2 separate regions of the Homo sapiens genome follow, and region 2 is linked to region 1. The links come from fine-mapping of genetic effects on gene expression. A gene starts in region 1. The other region holds a variant in brackets. All regions are shown on one strand. Distances are from middle to middle.

Region 1 (16,107 bases):
CACTCACCACTCGGTGTTGTTGACAGCGTCCCCGAATCCCGGCGTGTCCACGATGGTGAGCTTCAGCTTGACTCCCTTCTCCTCAATGTCCACCGTGTGTTTTAGAATCTCTACCGTCTGGCTGATGCGCTCTACGGGGAAGGGGCCACTGGAAGGGCCTCTCCAACCCTCAGCCCCTCACCCTTGGCAGCCAGGACCCTCGTCCTCATCCATCTTGGTGCCTTGGCCCTACCCCCAGGGGACCCACACCGCGAGAACAGAACAGTGGGAGCTGGACCTGAAAGGGAGTCCTTGGAGAGGTCCCATGGAAGGGGACTGGGGATCAGTGCCAGGGCCTCCTGGGGGCCACTCACCCTCAGCACTGAGCAGCTTCCGGTCCTTGTACAAGTCTGTCAGGAAGAGGCTGTGGACCAGTGTGGACTTCCCCAGGCCTGACTCACCTGCACACAGGTACAGAGAAGGAGCTGCGTTAGGTCTGGGGCTCCAACGACAGAGCTTGGCTGGCCAGTGACCCCAGCCACTCCCCCGAGGAGCCTGGCCCACTCACCAGCCACCATGAGTGTGAAGTCAAAGCCTTTCTTCACCGACTTGCGGTGCACCTGGTTGGGCAGTGTGGCGAAGCCCACGTACTGCTTGTCAATGTCCTGGGGACAGGATGGAACAGGGTAGGGACACAAAGGTTTCTCCAGAAGCCCAATACCCTGTCTCTTACCAAATGCGGTATGAGGAGACAGCAGAGGGTACGGTTCCCAGGGTGGGGCATTTCGTTGGCAAAAATAAGGGGAGGGCCCGTGGGCAAAAGCCTGGAGATAAGAAGGCAGGCGAGGTGGTGGCAGGAGAAGGCACCCCTGGCCCCAATCCCAGGGAGGGCTCTGCAGGGACCGACACTGTATTTATTCCGTGGGGAGATGTCAGGCCGCAGCAGGCACAGGCGATGTCCTCCCTCCTCGGGCAGAGGGCAGCAGGATTGGGACCCCTGGGACACACTCAAGGCCCTCCATAAGCCGGAGAAGCTGGGGGCCTCGACACTCACCCCTCCGGAGAGTGCCAGGGGGCGGGAGGCCCCACCTGGCCCGGATCCAGCCGCGGGGGCGGCGGCAGCGGCGGTGGCGGAGCAGCGCCTATTTATAGACCGCGGCGCCGAGCCTCCCCCGCCCGCGCGCCCAGGCGCCCAGCCCCCGCAGACCCTTGGGGCCCCTGGAGGGGTCCCACGGCCGCATTCTCCGCCGCGTTTTGGAGTCGCGTGAGGTGAGGCCTGGACAGGGCACGTCGCCCCACCGTGGGGCCGCGGACCTGCGAGGCCGCTGCGGAGGGAAGGGCTGAGCCTAGGCGCTGGCGGGCCGTGGCGCGCGGGGACGGGGACCCCATGCCGAGTCCCGGAGCCCGCGGGGTCACAGACCCACGTTCCGCCCTCTCCACACACGCACCTTGAGCCGCCTCTGGGCCTGGGTCCGCGGCGACAGCAGCTGCTCCACCAGGCGGTCCTGGGGCGCTGCCAGCGAGTCCATCGCGGCGACCCCCCCAGGCCCGGGGGCACGCTCGGACCCCAGGCCCGGTCAGGCCGCCAGAGCCCGGCGACAGCGAGGGACCTTGGCGCGGCTCTGCCTTAGGCTGCGTTGTCCACCCCGTTTTGCGGACGCGGGAAGTGAGGCCTGGACAGGGCACGTCGCCTACCCGGGGGATCGTCGACCCCCGAGGCCGACCGAGCCATCCCCCTGACTGGGCGAACTGGCCCCAAGCTGTGGCGGCGTCGCAGTCCGGGCAGGCCCCGCTCCCGCACCCGAGCCAGAGGCGGGGCGTCGCAGGCGCCCGCGGAGCGCGCGGCGGGGGGCGGCAGAGACGGCCCCGCCCGCCGTCGCCGGGAAACGGTCGCCTGGAAATTGGGCCGCGGGCGGAGCCACCCGAAAGCGGCTGCGGAGGGCAGGGCTGAGCCGAGGCGCGGTCGGGCCATGGCTCGCGTGGACCGGGAGCCCTGCCGCGCCCCCGGGGCCTCAGTCCGGGCTCCAGGACAGCAGGAGGGGACGACCGGGTCCTGCACGCGGGCCGGGGCGGGCCGGGAGTCGGTAGCCACCGCGCGTCCCGCCCCCAAGAGGTGCTGCGCGGCTTCCGCCCGCCAGAGGGCGCCGGAGGCCGCTCCCGGGACCCACGCGCAACAGCGCGGGTACCCGCCCAGTTCAGGGCCCGCCGTCTTCTCGCAGACTTGCCCGAAAACCTCCCGGCGGCGTCTCGACGCCCCAAGTGCCCACAGACACGCCGCGCCCTGCACCCCTCCCCAGCCCTGCTTGGGGCTGACCTCCCCCGTGCGTGCGTGCGTGCGTGCGCGCGTTTGTGTGTGCGCGTCCGTGCGGGTGTGTGTGTGTAATGTGTGTGTGTGTAATGCCTGCGTGTGTGCGCGTGTATACATGCGTGTATGCGTGTGTGTGTACGTGTGTGCATGCATTGGGTATGTGCGTGTGCGCGGGTGTGTGCATGTGTGTTTGGTGGACTCTTTCCCAAGACATTCGGGGGACCGGAGGAGGGCAGAGCCCACCTTTTCTGAAGTCCAGCCTGCCTGTCCCCTAGGAGGCTTAGGGTGGACAGAAGGGAAGGGAAGGGAAAGGAAGGGTGCAGGCTGCCGGAGTACTGGAGGTCCCTGCAAAACTTGGAAGCCCCCGCCAGCCTGCTGAATAAACGCCGGCCACCCATGCGCTGCCCTGCAGCCCTCAGGTGGCCCTGCCCTCAGAGACAGGGGTGGGGGTGGGATGGGACCCATCTCCCACGTGCTTCTGTGGACATTCCCTTGCCCTCTGAGCATCCTCACCAGCTCTGACCCACAGGATTGGAGGGACTGGGAGCTCCTGCCAGCCGGGCCTCCCTCCCATGTGGCTACTCCAGGGACTGCGGGGGTCTCCCGAGCTCCGCTCTGTGGGCCACCCACCTCCATGACCCCAGTAGAATCCCAACAGGCAAGCCCAGCGGAGCAGGACATGGGGCCTGGAAAGGTTCCAGGGTAGGACTGGTCAGGCCAAGCCCCTGCACATTAGAACATTAGAAGCTGGAGGCCCCAACCCCACCCCACCCCACCCGCCACCAGCCCTCCCTTAGGCTCTCCTGGCTGAGAGACCTCCTCCACTTCCTGTCCAGGCCCTGGTCCTGTTGTGGGGCCTGGACCACTGGCACCTGGGGAGGAGGGGCAGGCCCACAGCTGGGAACAGGAGAGCCTTTCATCCCAGGGAAAGGGGGCAGCTCCAGGCCCCCCAGCTCTACCAGTGCATCCCTCAGTCCTTGCTGCCAGAAAGCCTCCTCACTGGCCCCAGCCTTCCATGGCCCTGACCTGCAGGAAGCCTCTAGGCTGAGTCCCACCCAGTTTCCAACTGAGGGTCCACACCTCGAAGCCCAGCACCCACCCAGACAGGCTGGCATCTCAGGCCCAGGGCATCTCCAGGAAGACAGACAGCCCTGGGCCTAGGCCTCAGGCTAGGAGGTGTCTAACAGAGTGTGTGGCTCTCAGACTGCCTGCCTCAGTTTCCCCATTGGTAAGGCACAGCCTCTGGGGAGGCCCAGGTCAGGAGGGCAAGAATCTCACTCTCAGCGTTCAACCCACCTGCCCTGCCACCCACTGGGGCCCAGTCAGGGCCTGTGGATTCCCTGGGGGAGCCTCAAGGAAGGGGCCGTACCTGCCACCCCCTTTCTCTGGTCCCCAAGTGACAAAAGATACTCCCAGGGCTTCCTGAGCCATATGACACAGCTGCGCCCATCTCCTCCCAATGCCTGAGCCTCTCTGGCACTTCCATTCTTAGAATCACCCGAGTCAGCTCTGGGAGCAGCAGCCAGGGCCAAGAGATCACCGGTGCTGCCTGTGAGGAGGTGGGGGCACAGAGCGTAGTGACGGAACTCCCCCAATGCCTCTACAGCCCCCTTTCAAAGAGCAAAAAGAATGCTTGGACAGGCTGAGGCTCAGCAACGGTGGTAGCAGGGAAGCTGCCATGTGCTTCCAGCTCCCCCAGACCCACTGGTCACCCAGACACCTGGCCTGGCTCCTGCTCCGGGGCTCCCTTCCTTGGCCACACAGTGCCTTCTTCCTCTGGGCTTGGAGGCCTGGGAGGCCTGGGATGGGGTGAGGTGGACTCCCGGTTGACCTCAAACGATGGGCACCTCAGCAGGAGGGGGTCCCCACCCTGCAGTAATGGGCAAGAGAACCTGGCTGCACCCAACAGCAGTGGCTGGAGCCCAGGGTCTCAGAGTGCCCTTGGGTCAAGCTGGGGACACCTGCAGGCACAGGAGAAGCCTCAGGGGCCTGGCCTCCTGGCTTTCCCAGCCTCAGTTCCTTCCATTTCCCTCAAACAGTAGCCTGACGCATGTGTCCCTGCATCTCAGGCTTTGTCTGACCTGCTGTGATGGGGAGGCAGCTCCCAGCCTGGCTCCCCAAGGGGCCCCTCCCAGAGAGCCTCATCCACCTCTGGGTGGGGTGTGTCCCTTCCAGGAGAATGGCACTGGTCAGCCAGTGACTCCCCCAGCTCCTGGCCCCCCTGCCCGCCCTCCTGCCCTGCCTGCTGCACCCTGGGCCAGGACTCTGGAGTTCCACTCAGCATCCATGGCTCCTGAGAAACTCCATCCCTGATGGGGGCTGCCAGTGCCACCCTGGTGCCAGAATTGGGCTCTTCTTTTTTCCTCCAAAGATGGCTGAGCTCAAGCCAGAGAGGACACCAGCAGGCTTTCCCCAGCCCCCCCAGCCCACCTGGTTGTCAGCCCCCGCCCCACCCCAGGGGCCTCACAGCATTGTTTAACCCTGAGCTCGGCTGGGTTTCACCCAGGTGCCTAGACCAGCCTCCTGTCCAGTCTTGCTTTCCTGGAGGGTGGGGCCAACCCTTTTGAGAAGCCACAAGCCTATTTGTACCCACAGGGTCCCAGGACCCATCTGGGCACCCAGAATGACTCAGACCAGACCCTGGGGGTTCCCAATCTGGGGAAGAGTCCCTGTTGCAGACCTGAACACTCAAATTTGTGTATGGGGAGGGAAAGGGGCATGAAGGTGCAGGGGAGGTGGGTGGTGACCACAGGCCCTCTGCTGTAGGGCTGTTCAGGGACTGTGCTGGCTGATGGAGCCTGACTCCCCTCCCCCAGCGTGGCCTGCCACGACCATGGCCTCACCCAGGACCCCCAGCTCATGGCCTACAGGCCAGGTCAGCAGGAGATGCTGGCACTGGCCCTGTGGGAGGGGGACACTCTGCCCATCCCCCCATCCTGGGGAGGGGCGCAGGGTCCCTGCTGTGCGGGTCCGGGGACCAGGGCCCCCACTCCTCTCCTCTGAAGCCCCAGGCGCGGCGGCACTGCCCGGCTGACAATCGGTGATCGCGACAGGGCTGGGTGAGGGCCGGCGGGGGCGGGGTCGCGCCTGGGCGCCCAAGGCGCTAGTGTCACAATGGGTGACAGCCGGCCGGGTCTCCCGGCGGGGGAGCGGCGCTGCGCACGTACCTGCTTGTCCTCTGCGGGGTCGGGGTCGGGGTCGAGTCCGGGTCCGGTTCCGAGCGGGTCCGGGCCGGCGGGCGGGGGAGAGACGGAGAGACACGGTGAGAGGCGCGCGGGCGGCGGGGACAAAGGCGCGCGCGGGCACGCGGGCAGGCGCTGGGCTCACCTGGGGTCGCCAGCTTGCTCTTGTACCGCAGGCCTGTGCTCATGGTGGCCGCCGGCGGGGGACGTGCGGGGCGGGCTCGCGGGCGGGGCGCGACGACAAGCGGCGGAGGCCGAGGCCGGGCTGCGGGGTGAGCGGCCCCTCCGCGCCGCCGCCGCCGCCGCCCGCTCCGCCCGCGCGCCCGGCAGCCAATCGGCGCCCGCCGCGCCCACGCGCGACCCAGGGCGGCCCGGGGGGGCGGGGACCCAGGTCCCCCACCATGGACCCGAGACCACGGCCTCGGGGCGACGCCCTCGCCTCCTACAGCCCTGGCCGCGCCCGGGGTCACCCGACCAGACCCGCGCCGCCCCCGCCCTGCACGGCTGTTCCTGCCGGCCTCCTCCCCGCCACCTCCCCGGTGCCGCAGCCCAGGCCCAGCCTTACGCTCCCCCCGCCCTCGCTGGGACCCGGGTCCATGCCGGTCCTCGGACCATCCGTCCGGTGGCCCTTCTCTAAAGCCTGCCCTGGCTTTCCGGGCCAGACCCTGCACGCTCCGCCCCACCCCGCCGAGGTCAGCAGGGATGGTCCTGGCGCGGCTGGCCAGTGCCCAGCATTGCCCCTGCTGACCGCTCGGTGCTGCGCAGACCTGCTCTGCGAGCAGACGCACCTGGCAGGCTGTAGGCCACAGGCTTTTGGGCAGTGGTCCGGCCTCTCTCTTCCTGGGCTGTAAAATGGGATTATTTGTGAAGAGGAGTGATCTGAGGTGTCTGGCAGGACCGGCCCTGACCGTCTCACCCCAGCTCTGCGCCTGCTTCTCTGCTGACCCATAGGCTGTGGGGATGCTCCAGGCAGACCCGATCCCACCCTGCGGAGAAGGCTTGTAGGGGACCGAGGGGCACTGTGAAGGCAGGGCCAGGGCCTGCACCCCATTTACAGAGGGGGAAGTTCAGGCCCTAATCTTCAGTGAGTCAGCCAGACTCAGTGACTGAGAGCAAGTCTCTCCGGTCATTTGTGTCACTATCACATTCCCAGGTGTCCTCCGCCTGGACTTTCCCAAAGTGTCCCCAGGCGGCATCTCTGAAGGCTTTGGGGCTGTCAGGCTTGCGGTCACCACCTCCCCAGGTGAGGGCCCCCTTGTATGGAGATGTCTCCTGCACCCCGTATAGACAGTACCTCCACAGCCAGGGAATCCGCCTCTGCTCCCCACCCGTCCTGTGCCCCTTGGTCCCTCTGCTGGCCCGTGGGCTCCCTGGGTGGAGGGGGGTGTCGCTAGGGCCTTTCCATCTCTGAATCACCAGCACCCAGCACGGTAAGTGAAAAATTCATGTAAGCCGCGTCTTTGTTCCACAGTCCTTGCTCTGCTGCATTCTGTGGCCAGAGCGCCGTTGACCATAACCCTGCTCTGGGTCTAGAACTCTAACCAGTGTAGGGATCCCCCACAGTCCCAACCTCTCATCCAAGATGTGTTTGGAACTCAGGCTTTTTTGTATACATCATACATTATGTGGCACCTCTTTGGAACCTGGGGCTGCTCCTCATAATCAGACCCATTTATATTTTCGGGGCAAAACATATGTATTCAGGTGAACTGGAAGAAATAAAGACAGTAAGTGATGGCGCATCGTTCAGGTCCAGCTTTGCCACTGAGTTTTGAAAAACCTTTATGTTTCTGAGCTTTGGAGAATTTGGAATTTCGATAAAGAAATGTGTGTTGAGGTCAGGAGATCAAGACCATCCTGGCTAACACGGTGAAACCCCGTCTATTAAAAATACAAAAAATTAGCTAGGCATGGTGGCACATGCCTGTAGTCCCAGCTATTCAGGAGACTGAGGCAGGAGAATCACTTGAACTCAGAAGGCGGAGGTTGCAGTGAGCCGAGATCGCACCACTGCACTCCACTCCAGCCTGAGCCAAAGAGCCAGACTCCGTCTCAAAAAAAAAAAAAAAAAAAAAAAAAAAAGAATGTGTGTGTGGGGGTAGGGGCACTCAAAGGGCCAGGCAGGACTTCTGAGCATAGACAGGACTTTTTGGAAAGAATTGGAAAATGATGGTTGGCTGTTCACCACGTGCTGACCCATGCAAGCCTGTGCTTGTGGAGACAAAGGAGGAGAGACAGGAGCCCTGCCCAGGGGGAGGCAGGCAGCCTGTGAAAGGCACCAGCTCAGCGCCCCTCCCCATGGCTCAGGTGGCAGGGCAGCTCTGGACAGCCTTGGGTTAGGGGGTTTGAACTTGGCCTTGAGACAAGTGCATAGCAGGTCAAGGGCATAGCTCAAAGGGTGGGAGGCACATGTATACAGGAGTAATAGGTTTTAAAACAAATCTGGAGATAGAAGACAAGAAAGATGAGGAATACGGCATAAACATGATCTTTTTTAAAAAAGTCTGTCCCAAAAGATTACTTACAGAAATGCAGTTAGATTGGAGACCAGTGTTTAAGGGACAGCCAGCCTGGAGGCTGATGGAATATATAGGACTGGGAGCCACTCCTTGGAAGAGTGAAGTCAAGGGTGGTCCTGGGTCAGCGCCTCATGTAAAATGCCTGGGCTGGAAGGGGGAAGCGGCATCTGCTCCCTTACTCTGGGACTTTGGTCACCATGACTGTGAGTGCAGGGACAGCCCGAGTCCCTCCACAGACACATCGAGGCTGCACCCTGTCTAGCTGGGAGGCCTGCTGGATGGCATAGTGTCTGCATGGGACATTTCTGAAGTCAGGAAAATGGGTCATGAGGGCATCGGTCAGCAGACGCGTCTCCAGTTCTGCCAGGTGAGGCTTTGAGATACTGGCCACCACAATGGAGGCTGACAGCCCAGTGAAACCCTTATTATGCTCCTGTTCACCAAAAAGCCAACCAGGCAGGCCTGGTGGCTCACGCCTATCATTGTAGCACTTTCGGTGGCCAAGGTGGGAGGATGACTTGAGGCCAAGAGTTTGAGACCAGTCTGGGCAAGAATGTGAGACCCCGTTTCTATAAAAATTAAAAATTAAAAAAAAAAAACTGGCTGTGGTGGCATGAGTCTGTAGTCTCAGCTACTCAGGAGGCTGAGGCCAGAGGCTCACTTGAGCCTGGGAGTTTGAGGCTGCATGCAGTGAGCCGTGATGGTGCCACTGCACTCCAGCCTGGGCAACAGAGTGAGACCTTGTCTCAAAAAAAATGAAAAAACAAACAAACAACACCCAAGCCTTGGGGCTGTGGCTGATATCAGGGGGGCTGGAGCCACAGGGCAGTGGTCTGAACACACACACTTACCTCTCCAAGATGCCATGGCTTGAAAGAAAACTGCCTGCCAAAGTGGGTGTGTGCATCCACTTTCCCCAGCAGGCAGAGGAAGCGCTGGCTGTGGTACAAAAAGAAGTAAATAAAGCACTCCTTTGTGGAAAAAAAAATGCTATTTTTTAATTCATAAGGAAAAGAAGTTAATGAATAAAAAAATAAGCTACACCAAGAAAAATCTGTTCAACCAACTTGGGCTACAAATAGCTTGACTCTTTTCAGAAAAAGCCTCTTAGTGAAGAAATTCTCCAGAGGCTGCATTTGAACCATGCTGGGCCTCCCTCAGCACACAGGGGAGTGAGCGCCCCAGGGCTGGGACCCGGAGAAGGATGGAGCTGGTGGGGAGGTGGCAACGGTGATGGCGACGAAAGAATAAGGCACCTGCCATTGGCCCTTGGGAGCAGGTCTTGTGGGTGACAGGCTTCAGAGGGGGAGCAGTTTGCTCCAGGTGACACATGTCGCCACACTCCCAAGCCTGTCATCTGCAGTTAGGGCTGAGGCCACCACTGACAGGTTCCAGATGGCTCAGTCCATCTGAGGCTGAGGATGAGGGAAGAGGCCAAGATGCATGCAGGGTGTCAGGCACCTGAGAGCCCCACAGGCCTACCTGCATGATCAACTCGGGCAACCCTGACCTGTGCTGGGAATGGGGTGTTTTTTCACCCTGAGTAGACGCAGGAAGTGGAGGTCAGGGCGCGGTGGAGATCTGCTTGAGACTAAACAGCCGAGACTAGAACCCACGACCGTGGAGCCCAGGCCTGACTCCTGCAAAGTGCTGTGACCTGGTCGCGGCCCAGCCAGGGGCTGTCCCAATCAGGCAGCTGCTCGAGGCCTGAGCTCACATCCCTTCTATCCCCTGAATTCACCAGCAACCTGGTGGGTCCCAGATGATCCTCCTGACCCCTGCATTTTTCTACTGCTCTCATGCTCCTGTCCCTGCTGTTCCTGAAGCCCTCGCCCGCCAACCCTGTGAGATTTGAACCCACCCCCAGTACCTGGGGGCTCCGAGGGAGGCCGTGTGACCTGCAGCTTCATGCCCCTGCACCTTGGCACTAGTGTGCCCCCTGCCTGGGCTGCCCTTCTCTAGCTCTGCCGACCCAGCAGCACTGTCTCCAGCCCCTCCAGGCCCACCGTGCCCTATGCTGGCCTCTCTTCTGCAGGACATGGCCTGCCAGGCAGCAGACTCCCGACTGGCTCCCTGGCCCCCACACTCAGCCCCTGTCTGGCACCTGGGAAGCTCAGCAGCATCAGCTCCTGCTGGGTGGGGGCACAGGCTCCTAGGCGTGGATTCACAGGGCGGGCAAGGAGGGCCTGACTAAAGAGCCAGGCTCTGGGGAGCTTCAGACTGCATATTCTGAATCCCAAAACCTCTACTGTCTGCAGAGGGGTGCTTGTGTGCTCAGCCCAGCTCAGGGGGGTGTGCGGAGACCAGGAGGTTCTGGGGCGTCCTCCCTGCTCCCAAAGGCAGTGGCTGTCACCGAGCACAAGGGGAAGTGTGTGCACAGTGAGGATTCTACTGAAGAATGTTTTCCTTGATCTCCTTTTCAGAAAAATGTAAGGGGGTCACTGCACAAATCAGTCCTCATCACCGATGGGAAGACATGCCCATTAGAAGAGCACAGAACCCACAGCAGCTGTCTCTGCCTGGAGGGTGCGGCCTGGTCCTGCTTAAAGCCGCCTATGTCTTGCAGCGGTGGACAGAATAGGGCTTCAAGGGGGCTGAGTCTCAGTCCACACCAAGTCCCCGATTCCCTGGGCAGCTGGAGTGAGTGCTACAAAGGGCGCCTGTGCTCCACGGCAGGGAGCCAGCCTGGATCCAGAGCTGAGGGTCTGAGGGAGGTGGGTCTGCAGCCACATCTGATGGGCCTTCAGAGTCCCCTGAAGGATCTGGGACGGCGCCTGCAAGATAACACAGAGAGCAGCCCAGGGTAGGGACCAGGCGTGCAGTGTGACTCAGCTGGGAAGAGCTCCCCACGGTAGGGGGCGGAGGGGAACCCTCCACAGGGATGCTGCCTGAGGGGGCTGCACGGGACCATCCCCAGGCTGTCCCGGCAGGCAGAGGTCCTCACTGCAGTTCTGTGATTTTATGAGAAGCTGAAGGTGGAAGAATAGCAGATGAATGAAGAGATGTGAAATGGCACCAATGTTGATATTCTCCTGTGTCATGCATGGAAGCATGACAAACATCCCACGGGAGCAAGCGCTTGCGAAAGGCAGAGAGCAGGGCCAGAGCACGGTGACCTAGATCCTGCGGCTCACCCCACCCCTCCATCACAAAGAGCTCAGCGCTGGGCTCCAGGGACTGGCTCCAGCTCCCCACTGCATCTACCTCCCAGTCAGGCAAGAGAGATCTGAAAATCACTCTGGAATAAACAGGACCCTACTGTCCCGTCTTCAGGACCTCTGTTCCCTGGACCCTGGTGCTGCGTGCAAATGCACTGCCTGTTGCACACCCAGGCTCCCACGGGGAAGGTGGTTGCCAGAGCCCTCAACTTGGCGGCCCATCACCTGGTTTCGAGGCCTCAGGTGATGGCCATACCTGGGTGAGGATGAGGACCCCAGTCTCAGCTCATTCCCTGCCATTGTGTCCTCTCCAGCCCCCCGGACTGAACGCCACAGAGGCCGCCTCTCCCATGGAGGACAGCCAGAGCTCTGCCTGCCCCAGAATGCACAGCACACATTGCTGCGGGGGCGGATGGTGTGGGTCAGGAGGGTGAGGAGCTGCCATCCCCGGGTGCCATGGCCAGGGCCATTGGCAGAGCGGGGCCAGCCTGCGTGAGGGCTCCTGCTCCCACTTGCAGGGCGTGGTGGCAGCTCTGCCCTGCTCCTCATTTGCCCCAGGTTGGACCCCATTTCCCATCAAGCATGTGTTGCACCCATTGTAGGCTGGAGCCATGATCAGCCCTGAGCAGGGGATTCCCCGTTGGTGGAGACAGACACACCCTGTACCAGGATGCCGCCAAAGTCCTTCCACTTGACTGGGGAAAGCATGTCGCTGGACCTCCGTGGCCAGTGGCCAGCCGGCTGTCACGTCCTGGACTGAAGTGGATTCCTGCCCCTCCTTGTTCCAAAGGCTGCCTTTAAAGTGGTGGAGGCTTTTAGGGTCCCCTAGAGATGGGGGAGCAGCAGGAGACAGAGCCCCTAAGACAGGGGCTGCTTTTGCAGGAAAGGAGGGGCCCCTTGTCCTCACCGGAAAAGCAGGCAGGAGGTACGAGGCTCAGCCCTCAACCCTGCATGCTTTGACCAGCATCCCCTCAGAGGTGGCCGAGCAGGTTTCAGCCAAAGAAGGAAGCATGATCAGGTGCACCTGGGAGCTGAACCTGGGGAGACCCAAGCGGGGCCTTGCAGGGCAAAGGAGTTACTCTGTCCCCTCCCCGGGGCTCTTGCCGAAGGGCTCGTTCTGCAGCCAGGGATCTTCACAGCCATTCAGCTGCAGGCCCGTCTTGAGTGAGTCCTGCCCCCTCTCGCCTGGTGAGCAGCTGCGTGTGGCCCTCTTGGCAGGACAGTGCCAGCGTGCCACCCAGTCCTCCCTCTAGGACTTCCCAACCAGCAAGGGGTGCAGGCGGAGGGCACTGGTGAGGGCAGGACTCGTACCTCTGGTCTGCACTGCAGCTGCCAGCCGCAAATCTCACAGCGGCACAGATCAGAAGACCCCATACACCCGGAGTGGTGGCAGAGACCCTCTTTCCTTGGGGCTTCACGTTGGGGGATCAACATGCCACAAGCCTGCATAGCCAGGAAAGCGGGGCTGGGCCTCGAGTGCTGGCTTAGAGTTCGGGGGAGTACCTGGAGCCCAGCAGAGGGGCCCTGGGCAGGTGCTGGCCACGGCAGGTGGGGTGAGGGAGGCAGGGCTGATGCACAGGGGCTCGGCCTGGGTGAGGGCCTTGTTGGGCAGGTCTCCTTCTTCTGGTGCAGGGCCAGCATGCAATTGGCCAGGTTTGGGCCTTGCTACCAAAACAGCCTGCAAAGCCTTGCCCGACCTCTGGCCCAGGGTCTGGGCCCGTGACTCCCAGACAGACACTGTGACAGACACTGGTCAAACCAAGGGTCCAACTACAGACCCCTGCATCCTCAGAAGCCCCTGTCCCATGCCAGGGCCCAGTCATCTTGCAGCATGGGGCAGGGGCCCATGCCCCACTTGTGCCTCAGGGGACTGTCTTGGCTGCCCTGATCCTCGAGGTTATTTTTGAGAATCACAAAGAGAGCCTACTATCATCATCAACAAGACAGTCTGATTCAAAAATGGGCAAAGAACTTGATTTGGCCAGAGATATGTGTGTGTGTGTGGGTGAAATTCCTGAGATCCACCTCCTTCCAGGCTCCAGGGCCTCCAGCCATCTGCAAAGACCTTTCTGAGTGCAGGCTGAACGCCCTCCATCATTACCGCCTCATTTAAGCAACCCAGTTGGTGGGACCTTGTTGCAGCAACCTCAGCAAACGAATACAGGGTGTCATAGTCTGTTTGGGCTGCTATGACACAACTCCTTAGACTGCAGGGCTTAAGCAATAAACATTTATTTCTCACGGCTCTGGAGGCTGGAAGTCCAAGATCGAGGCACCAGCAGATTTGGCGTCTGGAGAGAGTGGAGCCCACTTCATAGATGATCATATTTTCTCTATAATTTCACATGGTGGAAGGGGTGAAGGGTATCTCTCGGACCCTCTTTTATTATTATTGTTATTATTTATTTTTATTTTTGTAGTGGCAGAGTCTCACTTTGTTGCCCAGGCTGGAGTGCAGTGGCCCAATCACAGCTCACTACAGCCTCAATCTCCCTGGCTCAAGGAATCTTCCCATCTCAACTTCCGGAGTAGCTGGGACTACAGACACACACCACCACATCTGGCTAATTTTTAAAATATTTTTTGTAGAGACGAGATCTCTCTTTGTAGCCCATGCTGGTCTTGAACTCCTGGGCTCAAGTGATCCTCCCACCTGGGCCTCCCAAAGTGCTGGGATTATAGGCTTGAGCCACTGTGTCTGACCCCAGGCTTCTTCTTTTATTGATTGATTGATTGATTGATTAAGACAGAGTCTTGCTTTGTCTCCCAGGCTGGAGTGCAGTGGCACGATCTCAGCTCACTGTAACCTCTGCCTCCCAGGTTCAAGTGATTCTCCTGCCTCAGCCTCCCGAGTAGCTGGGACTACAGGTGCCTGCCACCATGCCCAGCTAATTTTTGTATTTTTAGTAGAGATGGGGTTTCACCATGTTGGCCAGGCTGGTCTCGAACTCCTGACCTCAAATGATCCACCCACCTCAGCCTCCGAAAGTGTTGGGATTACAGGCATGAGCCACTGCGCCCGGCCTCCAGTCTTCTTTTATAAGGGCACCAATCCTTTTCATGCGGCTCCACCCTCGTGACCTAATCACCTCCCAAAGGCCCCACCTTCTAGTACGATCACCTGGAGGGTAGGGTTTCACCATATGAATTTGTGGAGACAAACATTCAAACCACAATACAGGGGCACCCCAAGACTTGGACAGAGGGTACACAGGCAGGGTCCCCGGCTACACCACCAGTGCCAGGCAGACAGGGTCCCTGGGTTACACTGCCAGTGCCAAGCAGGCAGGGTCCCTGGCTACACCACCGGTGCCAGGCAGGCAGGGTCCCAGGCTGTACCACCAGTGCCAGGCAGGCAGGGTCTCTGGGTTATACCACCAGTCCCAGGCCTCTGCTTTGTCGTCTGACTTCAGAGAGGGAAGCCTTCCATCCAGAGGAGGAATCAAACACAATCAGGACTTGTATGTATCTGAAGTGCTTCTTGGAATTCCAGCGTTTGCATTTCAATGGGTAGGAAGTTCCCTCCTGGGAGCCCCTGGGAGCCAGGCCTGGGTGGGGTCTGCATGACCCCCTTGAGCTCCATCTGCTGGCGATCCCAGGACTGCCCCAAAAGCCGGTGCCTGGGACCATGTTGGGCATGGGGCTTTATCCAAGAAGAGCTGGAGAGAGGGCTCGTGGGGTGAACAGGACCCCAGAAGCAGGGAAGAGGGGCTGGGCCAGTCCAGGCTGGGCCAGCACGTTGGCTGAGAGGGGAGGATATGACCCGTGCAGCGGCAAAGGTGAATGGTCTGCCTCACGCCAGTGCTAGCAGCCCGTGGGACCCTGGGCTGAGTCTCTGCCCCTACAAAACAGTAGACACTCACCTGTCCACGGCGGGACTTGGCCCAGGTGATGGCTGGGGACCCTTCTAGCTCTCAAGGCTGCTATGCCTCCTACTCAACAAAGTACAGTGAGACCAAAAGCAGCTCCTGCAGGATGAAGGAGACTAGGAAACAGCTGGGAGGAGGGCAAGGCCTGGATAGAGAACCTGCATGAACTGTAAGCAGATTAGGTCCAAGCAGGCCCAGGGCCTGGAGACTCTCGTGGGGTTGGCACCTTCTCTACCCACAGGCTGGGAGTCGGGAACAACATCTCTTTCAGAGGAGCCACCCGAGTGCTGGGGTCTGAGACCACCCAGGTGTTTTCTTACGGCAGCCCCCAGAGAGGCGATCAGAGCTCTGCGGGGTGCAGTCCGGTCACTGCAGCAGTGATGGTGCATGGCTCGTTCTTGCTGCTGGCTGACTCTGGAGGCAGAGCTGCATCCACCATGTTCCTTGGCATCACCTCACCATTATCCCTGGTTCAGGCAAGAAGAGGCTAATGAAGCCACGAGGAGGGGTGTGGTGGGCCCCCCACTGCTCCACAGAAAACAAAACAGAGGCACAACTGGGTGACTCTGCTCCAGTCCGAAATCAAGGCTGGTACCAGACCCAGTCCCACTGGCTACCCAAACTGGGAGCTGTGCTCGGCACTGCCCTGCCCAGGTGCGCAGCCCTCCTGCCGCCGGAGTTTCAGCCTGGCTCCATGTTTCTGTCAACAACAGATGCCGTCTGTCATGGCAACTGGCCTGGACTTTATCCTGGGACTTTCATTGTTCTGTCAATGCCACGCTTTTTGAAAATTCACTCAGTTCAAATGCTCTTCAAAGAAACCAACCACTTTCTGTTGCCATTTGAGAGGCTTCCCTAGTGCACAGAGGACAGGAAGCACAGGGAAAAACAAAACACCCAAAATAGGTGCGAACAGTAATGAGGAAAGAGAGAAACAATCAATTTCATACCACCCCTCCCAAAACCCCTCTTTAAAAACAGTCAGCAACATAGAAAGGCAGCAGTCTGTGCTGTATGGCAATCAAGCTTCCACGCGGCTGGCAGCAGAGCAGGCATGGGTTGTGCCGAATGCGCAACAACTCCTTCCTCCTT
Region 2 (16,107 bases), 23 kb after region 1:
AATTGGCTACATGTTGTGGGTCTCTCTGTGCACTTTATTCTGTTATGAAATGCTGCATAACATTATCTATTGCTGCATAACAACTCAAAACTTAGTGACTTAAAATAGCAATTTAGTCTTACTATCTATCATGGTTTCTGGGGGTCAGGAATTCAGGATATCTTAGCTGGGTAGTTCATGCCATTCCAGGCAGACAGTGGCTGGAGCTGGAGCAACTGGCTGGACATGTTTCTTTCCATGAAGTCTTATATCATCTCTGCAGGTAGACTAGCCTGGCAACTATCTCTGCAGGTGGACTAGCTTGGCAACCACCTCTGTGCAGGTGGACTAGCCTGGCAACCACCTCTGTGCAGGTGGGCTAGCCTGGCAACCACCTCTGTGCAGGTGGGCTAGCCTGGCAACCACCTCTGTGCAGGTGGGCTAGCCTGGCAACCACCTCTGTGCAGGTGGGCTAGCCTGGCAACTACCTCTGTGCAGGTGGGCTAGCCTGGCAACGTTGAAAGCATGGTGGCCCCAAGTCTCTGTGCATAGTGCTCTGGCACCCAAGGCAGATGCTGCATTATCTCTTGCGCCCCAGCCTCAGGAGCTCTGTAGCATCAGTTCTGTGGCATTCTATGGTTTATAAGGGAATGAGATCACTGAGATTCACAGATAGTATCAGGGTTCTGGAAGAGCATGTGGGATAGAAGGAAGTGTTGTGGCCATCTTTGAAAAATACAATCTGCAGAATCTCATCCTTTTAAACAATTTTAGTGAATCTTTTATCTCTCTGTCACAGACTGGATAATGTATATTTGTCTGTCTCTGGACAGCAGAGTGGGCAGTGGGAGGACTCCCCAAAGGCACAGCAGAGGCCTGGGGCCAGGGCACTGACAGTGGAGAGGGGATGGGGGCCATCCCTGTGTACAGTCACACCTGGTCACAGCTGTGTGGCACCAGATGTGGTGCGGGAGGTGGGGGAGGCATCGGCGTGACCAGCTGGATGATGGGCAGGGCCATCGGTTGTCTCTGTGACAGCCTCTGAGACACGGGCGCAGGGGTCTGGTGGGGGCTGTGTAGGTGAGGCTAGAGCCCACTGGGGAAGTGTTCCTGGGGGGCTGGGGGCTGCGGGGGGTGTGGGGGAGGAGATTCCCGAACAGAGCAGGGAAGCCAGGCCGGTGGTGTGTGCTGCTGGGGAGCTGCTGAGGCTCCTTCCCGCCCTGCTGCCCTGTATCCTGACTGGGAAACAGAGCCCCGCACAAACAAGGCTGTTTGGGTTGGCTGGGGTTCGCTGGGAGGATTGCAGTGCTGAATGGAGCCATCTCAGGCTCCAGGAGAGGCGCTGAGTGAGAGAGCACATTCCGTGGTGACTGTAGGCCTGGCGCTGTCCCGCCCAGTTTGGGGAGCAGGCTCTGTGTTGTGCTTGGCCAGCTCACTCCAAAGGAGCAGTGCCTCGTGGGGGCAGCAGCGAGTCTCCAACGGCCGGGGCGTGTTTCCTGTGCAGACGACCCCTCCTCGCTGAAACTCATGATCCAAGGAGATACCTAAGAAAGCAACTCCTGGCCGGGCGCGGTGGCTCACGCCTGTAATCCCAGCACTTTGGGAGGCCGAGGCGGGTGGATCACGAGGTCAGGCGATGGAGACCATCCTGGCCAACACGGTGAAACCCCGTCTCTACTAAAAATACAAAAAATCAGCCGGGCGTGGTGGCGGGCAACTGTAGTCCCAGCTACTCGGGAGGCTGAGGCAGGAGAATCGCGTGAACCCGGGAGGCGGAGCTTGCAGTGAGCCGAGATGGAGCCACTGCACTACAGCCTGGGTGACAGAGCGAGACTCCGTCTCAAAAAAAAAAAAAAAAAAAAAAGAAAGCAACTCCTGACAGAGGGCAAGCGGCTGGGACCCTGGCCCAAGGTGGCTGCACTGCCCTCGGCAAACTACCCAGTGCCTTGGGTCCAATCGGGGGTGGGGAGACGCTCTGGGGACCTCCCTCGCCTCTCCTTGCCTGGCCACCTCCTGGCAATATTTCCCGCCTCTTCTGCACTGCTCGCTGACCTTTGCTGGTGTCAGGCCTTTGTTCAGGCTTGTCCCCACTTTTTAGCACGGTTTAAGCAAAGTTTAGAGGAAATTTTTCTAAATTTCGGTAAAAATTTGAAAAACATTAAAAAATTTCTCAAAGTTATTTTAGCAAATGTGCTTTTGTCTGGAGGCCGGCTCCTCCTGGCTGTGCTCTGAGCCTGCTGGCATCCCCGACAGGGCCTGCTGCCCCAGCACTGCTGCTTGACCAGTGGCTCTCCTGCACATTTCATTTTTCACTTACACATTAGGCTCTCCCTCAAGGGAATCAGCCCAAGAGCAGGGCCCTGCGGGCCTTGTCCACACTGCTTCCCCGAGGCGCATAGAAATGACTTCTCCCCACCCTGCGCAGTGACTCGTAATCCCAGATCGCTTGTGCTCAGGAGTTTGAGACCAGCCTGGGCAACACGGCGAAACCCCGTCTCTACCAAAACAAACAAACAAACAGCTAGGTGTGGTGGCGCATGCCTGTGGTTCCAGCTTCAGGAGGCTGAGGTGGGAGCATCACTTGAGCCTGGGAGGCAGAAGTTGCAGTGAGCTGAGATCGCGCCACGGCACTCCAGCCTGGGTGTCAGAGTGAGACCCCATCTTGAAAAAAAAAAAAAGAAAAGAAAGAAATGACTTCTCCCGTGCAAAACTGATCCAAGGGTCTCTCATGATTTTTGTTGTTCATTTGCTTTAGTGTAGGCAGTGTGAAGACCTCACCTGGGTGTGCCACCAATGGAGGCTGCAGGCCCCGGCTCCAGTGAAGGCTGGTGCTGCTGCTGCCCTGTCCAGGACGGCTCTGCATCTTCCTCCCAGAAGCCCAGACTCCCCTGTGGGCTGCCCACCTGGCTGCAGCTCCTGAATGTCTGGTAGGCATCACACCCTTCATGGATGCACCTGCAAAGAAACTGCACTGTGCTTGCCCGGGGGTCCCCCGTCTGACTGGTGACTGCACCATTTGCTCAAATAAAATCCTCAGGGTCACCTACTTGTCCTGCATTGGATCCATCAGCAAGTCCTGCCGATTCTATCCCTAGATGCATTCAAAATGTTCTCGCCTGGCTTCATCACCACCTGTGTCTGTGTCCTGAGGCACTGCAGACCGGTGGCTTAACCACAGGCATTTATTGTCTTGTCTCGGAGGCTGGGAGTCCAAGATCAAGGTGTGGGCAGGGCTGGTTCCGATTGAGGCCTCTCTCCTTGCCTTGCGGGTGGCACCTTCTCCCTGAGTCCTCCCGGAGTTGTCCCTCTGTACATGTCTGTGTCCCAATTTCTTCTTAGAAGGACACCAGTCATATGGGATCAGGACCTACCCCCTCATGAATTTATTTTAACTTAACTACCTCCTTAAGGACCCTACCTCCAAATACACATTCGGAGGTCCTGGGGGTGAGGGCTTTGGTGTGGAGTTTTGGAAGGGAGAACATAAATCAGTGCATAACAACACCCATGCCACCCTCATCCCTGCTGCCTCCGCTCAGGCCTTCCATCTGGGGCCACACTCGTCCTCACGTAGCAGTGCCGACTGTTCAGGTCGCCACTCCACCTGAGCCATGCGCACAAGACCCACGTAAGGAGACCTAAGGCCTGGAACTTAGACTCTTGGGACGCCTGCCCGGGACGAGGTCAGCAGGCCCCTCACTCTCCTAGACACAGGGGCCTGCGCACTGCCCGGAGTCTCCCAGTCCTTCTCTGTGCCAGCACGGATTGGTATTTTATTTTAAATGACAGCTTTATTGACACAATTCAAAGACCATACAATCACCCACTCAAAGTGTACCAGTCAGAAGTTGTTGGCATATTCAGAGTTGTGTATCCATCACCACTGGGTAACTCTAGAACATTTTAAACTGAGACGTCATTCACACACCATAAAATCCCGACACGTGCCCCAACACCGATGAACCTTGAGGACGTTATGCTAAGAGACGCCAGCGACGAAAGGGCAGATACCATGTGGTTCCACGTATGTGAGGTGCATAGAGTAGTGAGGTTCATAGGCACGGACAGTAGAATAGGGGTTGCCAGGGGTTGGGGGCAGGGGATGAGGGGGGCTGCTGTTTAATGGGGGCAGGTTTTAGTTTTGCAAGATGCATAAAGTTCTGAAGATGGATGGTGGTGACGATTATACAACACTGTGAATGTATGTAATACCACTGAACTGTGCACTTAAAAATGGTCTGGGTGCTGTGGCTCACACCTGTAATCCCAACACTTTGGGAGGGCGAGGAGGGCAGATCACCTGAGGTCAAGAGTTTGAGACCAGCCTAGCCAACATGGTGAAATCCTGTCTCTACAGAAATACAAAAATTAGGCCGGGCACAGTGGCTCATGCCTTTAATCCCAGCACTTTGGGAGGCCGAGGCAGGCTGATCACGAGGTCAGGAGATCGAGACCATCCTGGCTAACACGGTGAAACCCTGTCTCTACTAAAAATACAAAAAATTAGCCGGTGTGGTGGCGGGCACCTGTAGTCGCAGCTATTCGGGAGGCTGAGGCAGGAGAATGGCGTGAACCTGGGAGGCGGAGCTTGCAGTGAGCTGAGATTGCACCACTGCACTCCAGCCTGGGTGACAGAGCAAGACTCCGTCTCAAAAGAAAAAAAAATTATCCAGGCATGGTGGCAGGCGCCTGTAATCCCAACTACTCGGGAGGCTGAGGCAGGAGAATCCCTTGAACCCAGGATCAGGCTGTGGAGGTTGCAGTGAGCCGAGATCACACCACTGCACTCCAGCCTGGGAGATAGAGCAAGACTCCATCTCAAAAAAAAAAAAAAGACTCAAATGGTAAATATATGTCATGTATATTTAACTACAATTTTTTAAAAAAGTAAATAATTAAAAATCAATCAAATGAAAAGTTGCAGGCCAATGGGCCTAGAGTGCTGCCGGGTGTATTAATATGTCGGCAAAAGAAAAAAATGCTCATGCATCCATGCATCCATGTGCCTGTACTTGTACACACCACCCTGGAAGGATACCAAAGAGCTGCCCCGTGAGCCGGTGACAAGGATGGCATTCCTTAGGTGGGTGGGAGCCCCAGGCAGGAATCTCCACAAGTGAGTCCTTTCATGCTCCTGGAACTTGGAATCTTGGGACTCTGTTACCTATTAGAAAAAGTTAAAAAATTAGTTGCCAAAGGAGGCCAAGCTGAGGGAAAAGAGCTAAAGCTTCCAGCAGCGATGGTGGCCCCACCCCACCAGGCCCCACCTTGGGCGGGGGCTCCCGGGAAGAAGCCAGCCTGTCCGGTGAAAGCTTGAAGCTCCTGTTCTGTAAGGAGCTGAGTAATGGTGACATACCAAGGCAGGTCAGCAGGGAAGAAGGCGACTTTGTTTATTCCTTCCCTCCTAACCTCACACATCTTCCGCTCAGAGGTCCAGCAGTGTGCGGTCGGCCCCGTCCCAGTGGCTAGACTGAACGATCTGCTGAGACCACGGAATTCTGAGCAGAAGGCGTTCCCAACAGCCACGCTCACACCCAGAGCACAAGCTCCCGGCCAAAAGCCGCCTCCCTCGGCTGCACAGGAATCTTAACATGCGGGATTATCCACTGAGGAAAGAGTGGAATGGAACAAACAGAAAAAGTGAAGGTTCCTGTAAAGGCGATTAAAATCGACTTAGTTGGCAGCCGAATGTTAACACTGCTGCAAAGCCTTAAAAAGAAAGCCAGCCATTTTATGCAGAATTTACATCCCAGCAGCCCAAGAAATGAGGCTCTTACCTAATTAAGGAGCAGTAACAAGGCATATTACTTGCTTCTGTTTTTATTTTTACCTTTCGGATAATTTCCAAATAAATTATTACCAAGCTGTTTTGAGGTTTGAGAATAAGAAGAAAATCTGATATTCAAAATAAGGAGTCGTTTCATGGTCTCTGACTGATAAACAGACATCCATTAGCAAAATGAGAGAGACACATTTTCCTAGATCAAATTTCCAAAGAAATGAAGTTTGTTGTGTTTTCTTGTCAAAATGCTGGCTGCCTCTGGTGTTTTGATGAAACATTTTCCTCTGGAGAATAAGAAGATTCTGGAAGTGTCTTGTGTGTTTGGAGGGCTAAATAGATGATAGACATAGTGATGCTGTTAGAAGTTAGGGCTCTCTTGTAGAAGGAGGTACAGATACGGAATGACGGACACAAGGAGGAGCCTGCAGGGCCGGGCAGGACTAGGAGTGACTGTGAATTCATGGTATGAGTTATTATGGATGCATTATAACTAATTACACGATAATTAAAATTAATAGTACAATCACATATTAATAATACAACTATATTAATAATATAATCACAATTCAATGATGTTTAATAGTATTATTAATTGTATATTTATTTATACATATTATAATAATCTCACAAATAATTTTTTTCTAGGATCTAAATGATACCATGGTAAAGTGAGCACAACTCATGCCTGGACCCCAGTGTGGAAGAAATACTCTGTTCTAAGAAAGCTGGCCTTGGTCGGGCGTGGTGGCTCACGCCTATAATCCCAGCACTTTGGGAGGCCAGGGCAGGAGGATCACTTAAGCCCAGGAGTTTGAGACCAGCCTGGGCAACATAATGAGACCCCATCTCTATAAACAATTTTAAAAATGTAATCAAGTATGATGTTGGGGACCTGTAGTCCCAGCTACTTGGGAGGCTGAGCCAAAGAGCCATGATCCTGCCAGGGCGCTCCAGCCTGGGCAACAGAATGAGGCTCCGTCTCAAAGCAAAGAAACAAAAACAAACAAACAAAAGGAAGCAGGGCTCCTCAGGGAAGTGGCTGCCTCCAGCGCTGCAGCAGTTAAAGTGCAGGCTGAGCCGGGTGCAGCGGTGGTGCCAGGAAGCAAGGGCGTGCTCCACCATGACAGGGACACGGGGCCGGTCAGCCAGCATCCAAACAAGCCCCACAGCCACTGAATATAACTCACCGAATCAAAGAAAACCCCACAAGCCTTCACTGGTAGCCAGAGGGGAGACTGGGCAGTTTTCCTTACGGTGGAAAGCCAACTACTAAATGGAGAAGAAATGAAGGAGTTAGAAAATCACTATGTTGAGTGGGCATAGTGGCTCACGCCTGTAATCCCAGCACTTTGGGAGGCCGAGACAGGAGGATCGCTTGAGCCCAGGAGTTTGAGACCAGCCTGGCCAACATGGTAAGACCTCATCTCTACCAAAAAAATTTTCAAAAAATTAGCTGGATGCTGTGGGATATACCTGTAGTCCCAGCTACTTGGGAGGCTGAGGCTGGAGGATCCTTTGAGCCCAGGAGTTTGAGGCTACAGTGAGTCATGATCACAGCACTGCACTCTAGCCTGGGTGGCAGAGTGACACCTTGCCAAAAAAAAAAAAAAATGGTAGCACAATGTAGATTTTTACAGAAGGAGCAAGAAAGGCCACGAAGCAAAATGTTTAAAAGCAACAACTTGAAGTGAAAGGTTTAAGGAGCTCATTGAGCTTTCCTTTTCTCCGGAAGACCCCAGAGAGAGCCCTGAGTGGGTCTGTGGCCATTGGGAGTCTCTGGCCACCACAACGGGAGCTTGTGGTCCTGTAGGAGCTGATGGATGGGTCAGCATCGCCTGGGCCGAGTGCCCATGTCTGCCATGTGACTCGTGGTCTTCCACAGCAGACACTCAGCTCTCTACATACAGGCGTGGCTGGTACGAAAGCCACAGGGGCTCCCCCAGGGCCCCAGCTCAGGGTCGGACGTGGGATGTGGCCGGCCCCAGACTCTCTGCTCGAGCTCATCTGTGCAGCCTCACAGGGGCTGGCCCTGCCACGGGTGCCCCTCCCGGGCCGTGCACCAGGAGGTTTCCACCCTGACCTGTGAAGATGCAGCGCTCTTCGGATCTGAGCAACACACTTCATTCAGGATGGGCCTTTCCCAGGACAGCACTGATGGGAGCTTCCTGTGCACACCTGTTGGGCTGTGCTTCTCCTCGGAACATCCGGTTAAGCAGGAATGGGGCCTGTGTTGGGGTAAGGGGCTGCTCCACTCCCTCCATGCCCCACCTGCAACTGTGCAACCACCTCCTGCATCCAGCCAAGCTGAGGGGTCCACATGGATGGTCAGCAGGGTTTCACCTGGCAGTGAGATCTGCCCCCTGCACTGGGGGGACGAGGGCTGGTCTGTCCTCATGTCCTGCCCCAGTGGCCACCCCAAGCCCCAAGGGAAAAGCAGCACAAGTGTGTCTGCTCCCCACTGCGTAAGGGCACCTGCTCCTCTTTCCACCGGCCAGCTCCTGGATGCCCCACACCCGCAGCCTGTGAGCAGAGGGTGGCAGGAGGGAGAGGAGGTGACAGAGAGCCCAGAGATAAAAGCCAATGTGTGGGCCACTCCTGAAGGCTGCAGGCACAGAGACAGGGGGCACCTATCAGGGCTTGGGGCTGAGAGGACGCCCAGAGCTGCAGGCGGAGAGCAGGGGTCACTGCCAAGGGCTCTGGCCAGAAAACCAGGCATGGGGCTCTGGGGAGCCTTCAAGGAAACAGGCCCGGGGCTGTGGGCTGAGGCGGGGCTCTGGTGAGACAGCTCCTAAACCCCAAGCCAGCATGGCCATGCTGGGTCCCTGACCTCCAAGGCCATTGCTCTGGGGGATAAGACACGCCCAGTAAGCAGGATCCCAACATCTACTCATCCCGGCAGCCTCTGGGCCTCTGCAAACCCTGCTCGGGGGGAAGAGGAGGCTGAGGGGGAGGCTGCACCAGGCAGAGCTGTTGGGGAAGGGCCCCTGGATGCCACATGTGAACCTCAGAGAGGGCAGGTGTGTGGGCAGGCACGGCCGGGCCACGGGAGCACGTGTCCGGGCAGGGAGAGGGCAGTGGGCCTGGGCTGAGCAGGTTGGGGGCCCTGCGAGAGAGACTAGGGAGGTCTCCAGAGGGGTGGCATGCCCAGGGTGTTAGGGAGATTGATGTGGCGGCAGCAGACCCCCGAGGAGGCAGGGGTGAAGGTGTCACCCAGGAGGCTGCAGACAGCTGGCCAGCCGGGGTCCGAGGGGCCAGTTAATGAGGAGAGAGCCAAGGGCCAACGTACCCAGGAGGAAGGAAGGAAGCCAGGCCAGGCAGGGATGGGTGGCGAAACACAGCGTGAGACC[A/G]CAGTCATGAAGTAACTCCCGCAGCCGCTCCACTCAAGCCGGTCCTGAGGCGGTTTCCACACTTGTTGGCTGTGACTACAAATTAAAAAGCCAAGTGCAGACATCAAGGCTGCCCTGCAGCTGTGACACCCCTCCCCGCCCCACCCACCACGCCTCTGACTCCCAGCCGAGGGCCGAGAGCCCCTCCTGAGCACACCCCATCCACCCAGCTCCACAGTGTGCACAGGGTGTGGCAGCCTTGGATGCAGAGAAGCACCTTGCAGCCTCCCCAACAGGTTCCCGCTGGCCCAGTGCCAGCCCTTGCCCCAGTTGTGCAGGGACCTGCGGAGCTGTGCTGCAATTCATTTCTTTGGCAACAATGACCTGAGAGAGCCTGGCCTTAAGAGCGAAGATAAACGGGCTCTTCGACTAGGATGTCCTTGTCACAGCGGGAGGGAGATCTGCAGCTGGCCCTGCTCCCTTACCCCTTTGCACAACGTGAGGAGCCCCTGAGAAGAGCCCATGGACCACGCCGAAATGCAGGGTGCTGTGGGGTTCTCCAAGGAGGAGGCCAGGCCCTTGTCCTCAGCTCAGCCCCGGGGGAGGAACCCAGGGAAGGGGAGACAAATTTTGCAGGGATGTGGAGTCCCAGAGAGCAGGGCCCCTGTTCAGAGCCGAGAGGGGCCGCAGGGCGTGGGGGCAGAAAGAAGTGCAAGGGCTGTGCACCAAGGACACAGATCAATAGCCGGTTCCTCAGAGTGCAGCTGAAAAGCTTAAAAGCTTTGAAAATGCAATGTCTGGGTTCTGCCGGTGAGCACCTAATAGTGCTCTCTGAGAGTGGCCCCCGACTCTGCCTTTTTTTTTTTTTTTAAATGCAGATACCGGTTTAAAGCTAGACACACTCTCAGTTAAGTGTACACCAGCCTCACAGACTTCATGATCCAGACTTGTTCTACGTGACCCAAATTACACATGACTGCCTGTTATGTGCTTTAAAATATTTTTTAATTGAATTTTTTCTGTGGAGATCATTGTAGATTCACAGGCAGCTGTAAGAAATAACACAGAGAGGTCCCTTGTACCCAATGGTACCATCTTGCAACGGTAGGACATCATAGCCTGGATGCTGACACTGGTACGGTCAAGATACGGGATATTTCTGTCACCAGAGACTCCCTCCTGCTGCCCTTTTACGGTCACACGCACCTCCCTCCCACCGAAGCCCTTTCCTAACCTCCAGCAATGGCTGATGTGTCTTCCATTTCTAGAATGTTGATTTCAACAGTGTTATGTAAGTGGACATGGAATCATATAGTATATCATCCTTCAGGCCTGGCTTTTTCCACTTAGCATAATTCTTTGAAGATTTATGCCAGTTGTTGCAGGGATCAATAAAAACTTCAATTCTTTTTTTTCCTATCAGTATTGTATAGTTTTCAGTGTTCAAATTCTGCATTTTTAAACTTAATTTAATTTTTTAAATCTTTTTAGAGATGAGGTCTCACTTTGTCACCCAGGCTGGAGTCCAGTGGCATAGATCATAGCTCACTGCAGCCTTGAACACCTGTGCTCAAGTGATCCTCCCCTCTCAGCCTCCTGAGTAGCTGAGGCTACCAGTGCACAGCACATACCTATGTTCTATATATGTTAGATTTATACCTAAGTGTTTCATTTTTTGAGGGATTTTAAATGGTATTGTATTTTTAATGTCAGTGCCCATGTGTTTGTTGCTAGCATGTAGAAATAGAATTGACTTTTGATCGTTTATCTTATGTCTTGCGACCTTGTTAAACTCACTTATTAGTTCTAGGAGGGCTTTTTTGAGGGTAGATTCCTTGGAATTTTCTATGCAGAGACAATCATGTTATCTGTAAATGAGGGCAGTTTTGTTTCTTCCTTTCCTGTCTGTGTGCCTTTTATTTCCTTTTCTTGCCTTATTGTACTGGCTAGAACTCCCAGCTCTGTGCTGAGTAAGAGTGGTGAGAGCAGGCATCTTCTCTTTGGATCCTGGAAGGAAAGAACTTAGTTTTCACCATCAAGTATCACATTAGCTGGCCAGGCGCGGTGGCTCAAGCCTGTAATCCCAGCACTTTGGGAGGCCGAGGCGGATGGATCACAAGGTCAGGAGATCGAGACCATCCTGGCTAACATGGTGAAACCATGTCTCTACTAAAAATACAAAACATTAGCCAGGTGTGGTGGTGGGCACCTGTAGTCCCAGCTACTTGGGAGGCTGAGGCAAGAGAATGGCGTGAACCCAGGAGGTGGAGCTTGCAGTGAGCTGAGATCACGCCACTGCACTCCATCCAGCCTGGGTGACAGAGTGAGACTCCATCTCAAAAAAAAAAAGAGTATCACATTAGCTATAGGTATTTTATAGGTGCCCTTTACAAAGTTGACAAAGTTCCCCCTTTATTCCTAGTTTTAGAATTTCTGTTATGAATGAGTGTTGAATTTTGTCAAATGCTTTTTTTTTTTTTGAGACGGAGTCTTGCTCTGTCGCCCAGGCTGGAGTGCAGTGGCATGATCTCGGCTCACTGCAAGCTCCGCCTCCCGGGTTCACACCATTCTTCTGCCTCAGCCTCCCAAGTAGCTGGGACTGCAGGCACCCGCCACCACGCCTGGCTAATTTTTTGTATTTTTAGTAGAGATGGGGTTTCACCATGTTAGCCAGGATGGTCTCGATCTCCTGACCTCGTGATCCACCCTCCTCAGCCTCCCAAAGTGCTGGAATTACAGGCGTGAGCCACCATGCCCAGCCGATTTTTGTCAAATGCTTTTTGTGCATCAATTGATATGATTTTTCTTTGTTAGCCTGTGAATTCAGTGGATTACATTGTTTGCTTTTTGAATGTTTAACCAGTCATCCATTCCAGGAGTAAACTCCACTTGGTAATGGTGTACAATTATTTGTATGTAGTGCTGAATTCTATTTGCTAATATTTTATTAAATATTTTCTTGGTCTATATTCATGAGGGATATTTTTCTGAGATTTTCTTTTTTTCTACTATCTTTGTCTGGTTTTGGTATCACTGTAATTCCAGCTGCATAAAACAAATTGGAAAGTCTTCTTTCCTCACCTATTTTCTGGAACAGTGGTGATAAATTTTTCTTTAAAGATTTGATAGAATTATCTATTTAAACGATAGGAGTCCGGAGATTTCTTTTTTTAGGAGTTCTAAAATTATTAATTAAATTCCCTATTCAAATTATCTTTTTCATATTGGGTAAGTTGTGGTAGTTTGTATTTTTCAAGAAATTGGTTCATTTCATCCAAGTTGTCAAATTTATATGTATAGAGTAGAGTTATCATTCCTGATATTGGTAATCTATGTCTTTTTTTTTCTTTGGTCAGTATTGATAGAGTTTTGTCAGTTTTATTGACCTTTCAAAGAATCAGCTTTTGGCTGGGTGTAGTGGCTCATACCTGTAATCCCAGCACTTTGGGAGGCTGAGGCAGGAGGATTACGAGGTCAGGAGTTCAAGACCAGCCTGGCCGATATGGTGAAACCTCGTCTCTACTGAAATACAAAAGTTAGCTGGGCGTGGTGGTGCGTGCCTGTAGTCCCAGCTACTCGGGAGGCTGAGGCAGGAGACTCGCTTGAACCTGGGAGGTGGAGTTTGCGGTGAGCCGAGATTGCGCCACTGCACTCCAGCCTGGGCAACAGAGCAAGACTCCGTCCCCCTCCCCCCACAAAAAAAGACAATCAGCTCTTTCTTTCATTGATTTTCTCTATTATTTTTATAAGGATTTTATTAATTTTTGCCCTTATCTTTTATTATTTTCATCCTTCTGCTTGCCTTGGGTTTATTTTGCTCTTCTTTTCCTAGTTTCTTGAGGTTTTTGAGCTTATCGATTTGAGACTTTTCCTCTTTTCTAATATATGTGTTTAATGCTATAAATTTTCCCCATCCACAATGCTTTTTCTGTGTTTTGACATTTGTACTCCATTTTCATTCAGCTCAATGTATTTTTTAAAATATCTCTTGAAACTCCTTTTTCCCATGGATTACTTATAAATGAGTGGTTTAGTTTTCAAGTATTTGGAGGTTTTTCTGTTATCTTTCTGTTGATTTGTAGTTTGAATTCATTGTGTTTGGAGAACCCACACCATGTGATTTCAATTTTTAGAAAATTGTTAAGGTTTGTTTTGTGCCCCAGAATATGGTCTATATTGGTATATGTTTCGTGGGCACTTGGAAAGAAAGGATAATCTGCTGTTGGAATAAAGTGTTCAATAAATGTCAATTAGATCCTGTTGGTTGACGATATCATTGCGTGCTTCTATTTTCTTGCTGATTTTCTGTCTAGTTGATCTATCAATTGTTGAGAGAGGAGTGTTGACGTATCCAACCACAATAGTGGATTTGTCTATTTCTCCTTTCAGTTCTATCCCTTTTTGTTGTATATATTTTGCAGTTCTGTTGTTTGTTAGATAAATGTTTAGGATTACTATGCATTCTTGTTGCATTGACCCTTTTATTATTGCATGTCAGTCTTATCCCTGGTAAGTTTCTTTGCCCTGAAGTCTGCCTCATTTGATACTAATATAGCCACTCCTGCTTTCCTTTGATTAATATCTGTGTGAAACATCTTGAAGTGAATTTCTTGTAGATAGTATATAGTTGATACATGTTTTAAAATCCATCTTACCAATCTCTTTTAATTGGTGAGTTAAGACATTTACATTTAATGTAATTATTGATATGTTAGGATATAATTGTGCCATTTTATTTATTTATTTATTTATTTATTTTTGAGACGGAGTCTTGCTCTGTCGCCCAGGCTGGAGTGCAGTGGTGCGATCTCGGCTTACTGCAAGCTCCACCTCCCGAGTTCACGCCGTTTTCCTGCCTCAGCCTCCCATGTAGCTGGGACTGCAGGTGCCCGCCACCACGCCCGGCTAATTTTTTGTATTTTTAGTAGAGACAGGATTTCACCGTGTTAGCCAGGATGGTCTTGATCTTCTGACCTCATGATCCTCCCACCTCAGCCTCCCAAAGTGCTGGGATTACAGGCTTGAGCCACTGCACCCAGCAATTGTACCATTTTATTCTGATCTGTTTTCTGTTTGCTCCCTGTTTTTTGTTTCTGTTTCCTTTGTCCTGACTTCTTATCAGTTAAACATTTTTTAGAATTCCATTTTGATTGATCAATAGTGTGGGTTGTTTTTGTTTTTTGTTTGCATTTTTTTTTTTTTTTTTTTGGAGACAGAGTCTTACTTTGTTCCCCAGGCTGGAGTGACATGACTCACTGTAACCTTAAACTCCTGGGCTTAAATAATCCTCCCACCTCAGCCTTCTGGGTAGCTAGGACACAGCCATGTGCCTCCATGCCCGGCTAATTTTTTAATGTTTTGTGGAGTAAGGGTCTCGCTATGTTGCCCAGGCTGGTCTCGAACCCCTGTCCTCAAGCAATCCTTCTGCCTCAGCCTCCCAAAGTGCTGAGATTATAGGTGTGAGCCACTGTGCCTGGCCCTCCATCGTGTTTTTGAATGTAGCTCCTTGTACAGCCTTTTAGTGGATGTTCCACATTATATACAACTTATCACAATCTACTGATGGTGTCATTTTTTCAGTCTGAGTGAAGGGTAGGAAACTTACCTCTCTTTGTATCCCATTATCCTGCCCCATTTATAATGTAATTGTCTTAAATCTTTCCTATACATACACTTAGAATCACATTAGGCAGTGCAATAAATTTTGCTTCAGCCATCAGACATAACTTACAAAATTGAAGAGGAGAAGAAAAGCCTATTGTATTTACTCACATTTTTACTTATTAGGTTTTTTTCCTTCCTTCCTTATTTAATTATTTCCTTCCCATTTAAATAACTTCCTTCAGCTGGTGTTTTTGGGTAAGTCTTTGGCAACAAATTCTCTTAGTTTTCCTTCATTTGAGAATGTCTTGATTTCCCTTTCATTCCTGAAGGATATTTTCACTGCATATAAGATTCTGGGCTGATGGTTCCTTTCCTTCAGCACTTGAAAAATATCGTGCCACTTCATTCCGGCCTCCATCAGTCCCGAAGGGAAATCTGCAGTAATGCAAATGGTTTTTCCCTATAGAGTATTGGTACTGGTATTGGTATTGCTTTCTCTGGCTATTTTCAAGATTTTTGCTTTGTCCTTAGTTTTTAGAAATTTCACTGTGATGCGCCTTGGCATGGATTGCTTTGGGTTTTCCTTGTTTGGGATTCATTCTGAATCTGTAGGTTTGTGTCTCTTGCCAAATATGGGGAGTTTTAGCCGTTGTTGAGTACTTTATCAGCCTTGCACGCTTTCTCCTCTCTTTCTTAACCACCAATGACACAAATATTAGGTCTTTTGTTGCAGTCCCACATATACCTGAGACTGTTCTTTTTTTTCTTTTTCAGTCTATTTTCTCTGTTGTTCAGACTGGGTACTTTCTATTGTTCTGTCTTCCAGTTCACTGGTTCTTTCCTCTGTCCCCTTCATCCTGTTCTTGAGCCCATCCACTGAGTTTATACTTCAGTTATTGTATTTTTCACTTCTAAAATTTCCATTCCAATTTCTTTATATCTTCAATTTCTTTCCTAAGATATTCTCTCTCTTTCTTTGCTGAGGCTATTTTTTCATTTGTTTCAAGCACGTTCTTAGTTGTTTGCTGAAGCATCTTTATGATGGCTGCTTTACAATCTTTGTGAGCTAATTCTAACGTCTTTGCCACCTACTGTTGGCATCTACTGATTGTCCCTTTTCACTTAGTTGCATTCAACAGTTTCAGTCCGTTGCATCATACTGAGAACCATCTTCCTGGTAATGAGCGGTTTTCTATTGAAACCTGGACATTTTTTGTGTTATGAGACTCTGGATCTGATTTAAATTTTCTGTTTTTCAAACAGCTTTATCGAGGTATAATTGATACCCAAGAAACTACATATTTAAAATAGGCAGTTTGATGAGTTTTGACATATGTCTATACAGACCCATGAAACCATCACCACAATCAAGGTAATAAACACACCCATCAGTCTTCTCTATTTTTTTTTTTTTTC

What was found.
Region 2: its variant is fine-mapped to the expression of SEPTIN5 in whole blood (TOPMed, PIP above 0.99).

Annotation. Positions count from the first base shown.
Region 1 is chr22:19,704,139-19,720,245 of GRCh38, reverse strand. It overlaps SEPTIN5 (septin 5), which reads right to left and starts at 5,743. Exons shown (of 12, transcript NM_002688.6): 1 at 5,615-5,743; 2 at 5,455-5,465; 3 at 548-644; 4 at 354-440; 5 at 8-131. The coding sequence starts at 5,657. SEPT5-GP1BB (SEPT5-GP1BB readthrough) reads right to left here and starts at 3,026. Exons shown (of 12, transcript NR_037611.1): 1 at 1,428-3,026; 2 at 548-644; 3 at 354-440; 4 at 8-131. It overlaps LOC124905079 (a long non-coding RNA gene), which reads left to right and starts at 5,451. Exons shown (of 2, transcript XR_007068003.1): 1 at 5,451-5,549; 2 at 10,412-11,256. RefSeq lists enhancers at 460-960, 961-1,461, 1,809-2,449, 2,450-3,091, 11,094-11,601 and 2 more and silencers at 1,053-1,232, 1,637-1,807, 1,784-1,963, 1,974-2,393.
Region 2 is chr22:19,681,219-19,697,325 of GRCh38, reverse strand. No RefSeq gene overlaps it. Among named protein-coding and RNA genes, the nearest start is that of SEPTIN5, 25 kb to the left of the region's middle. RefSeq lists enhancers at 4,798-5,357, 8,340-9,188. The variant A/G (reference allele first, on the strand shown) is at 9,109.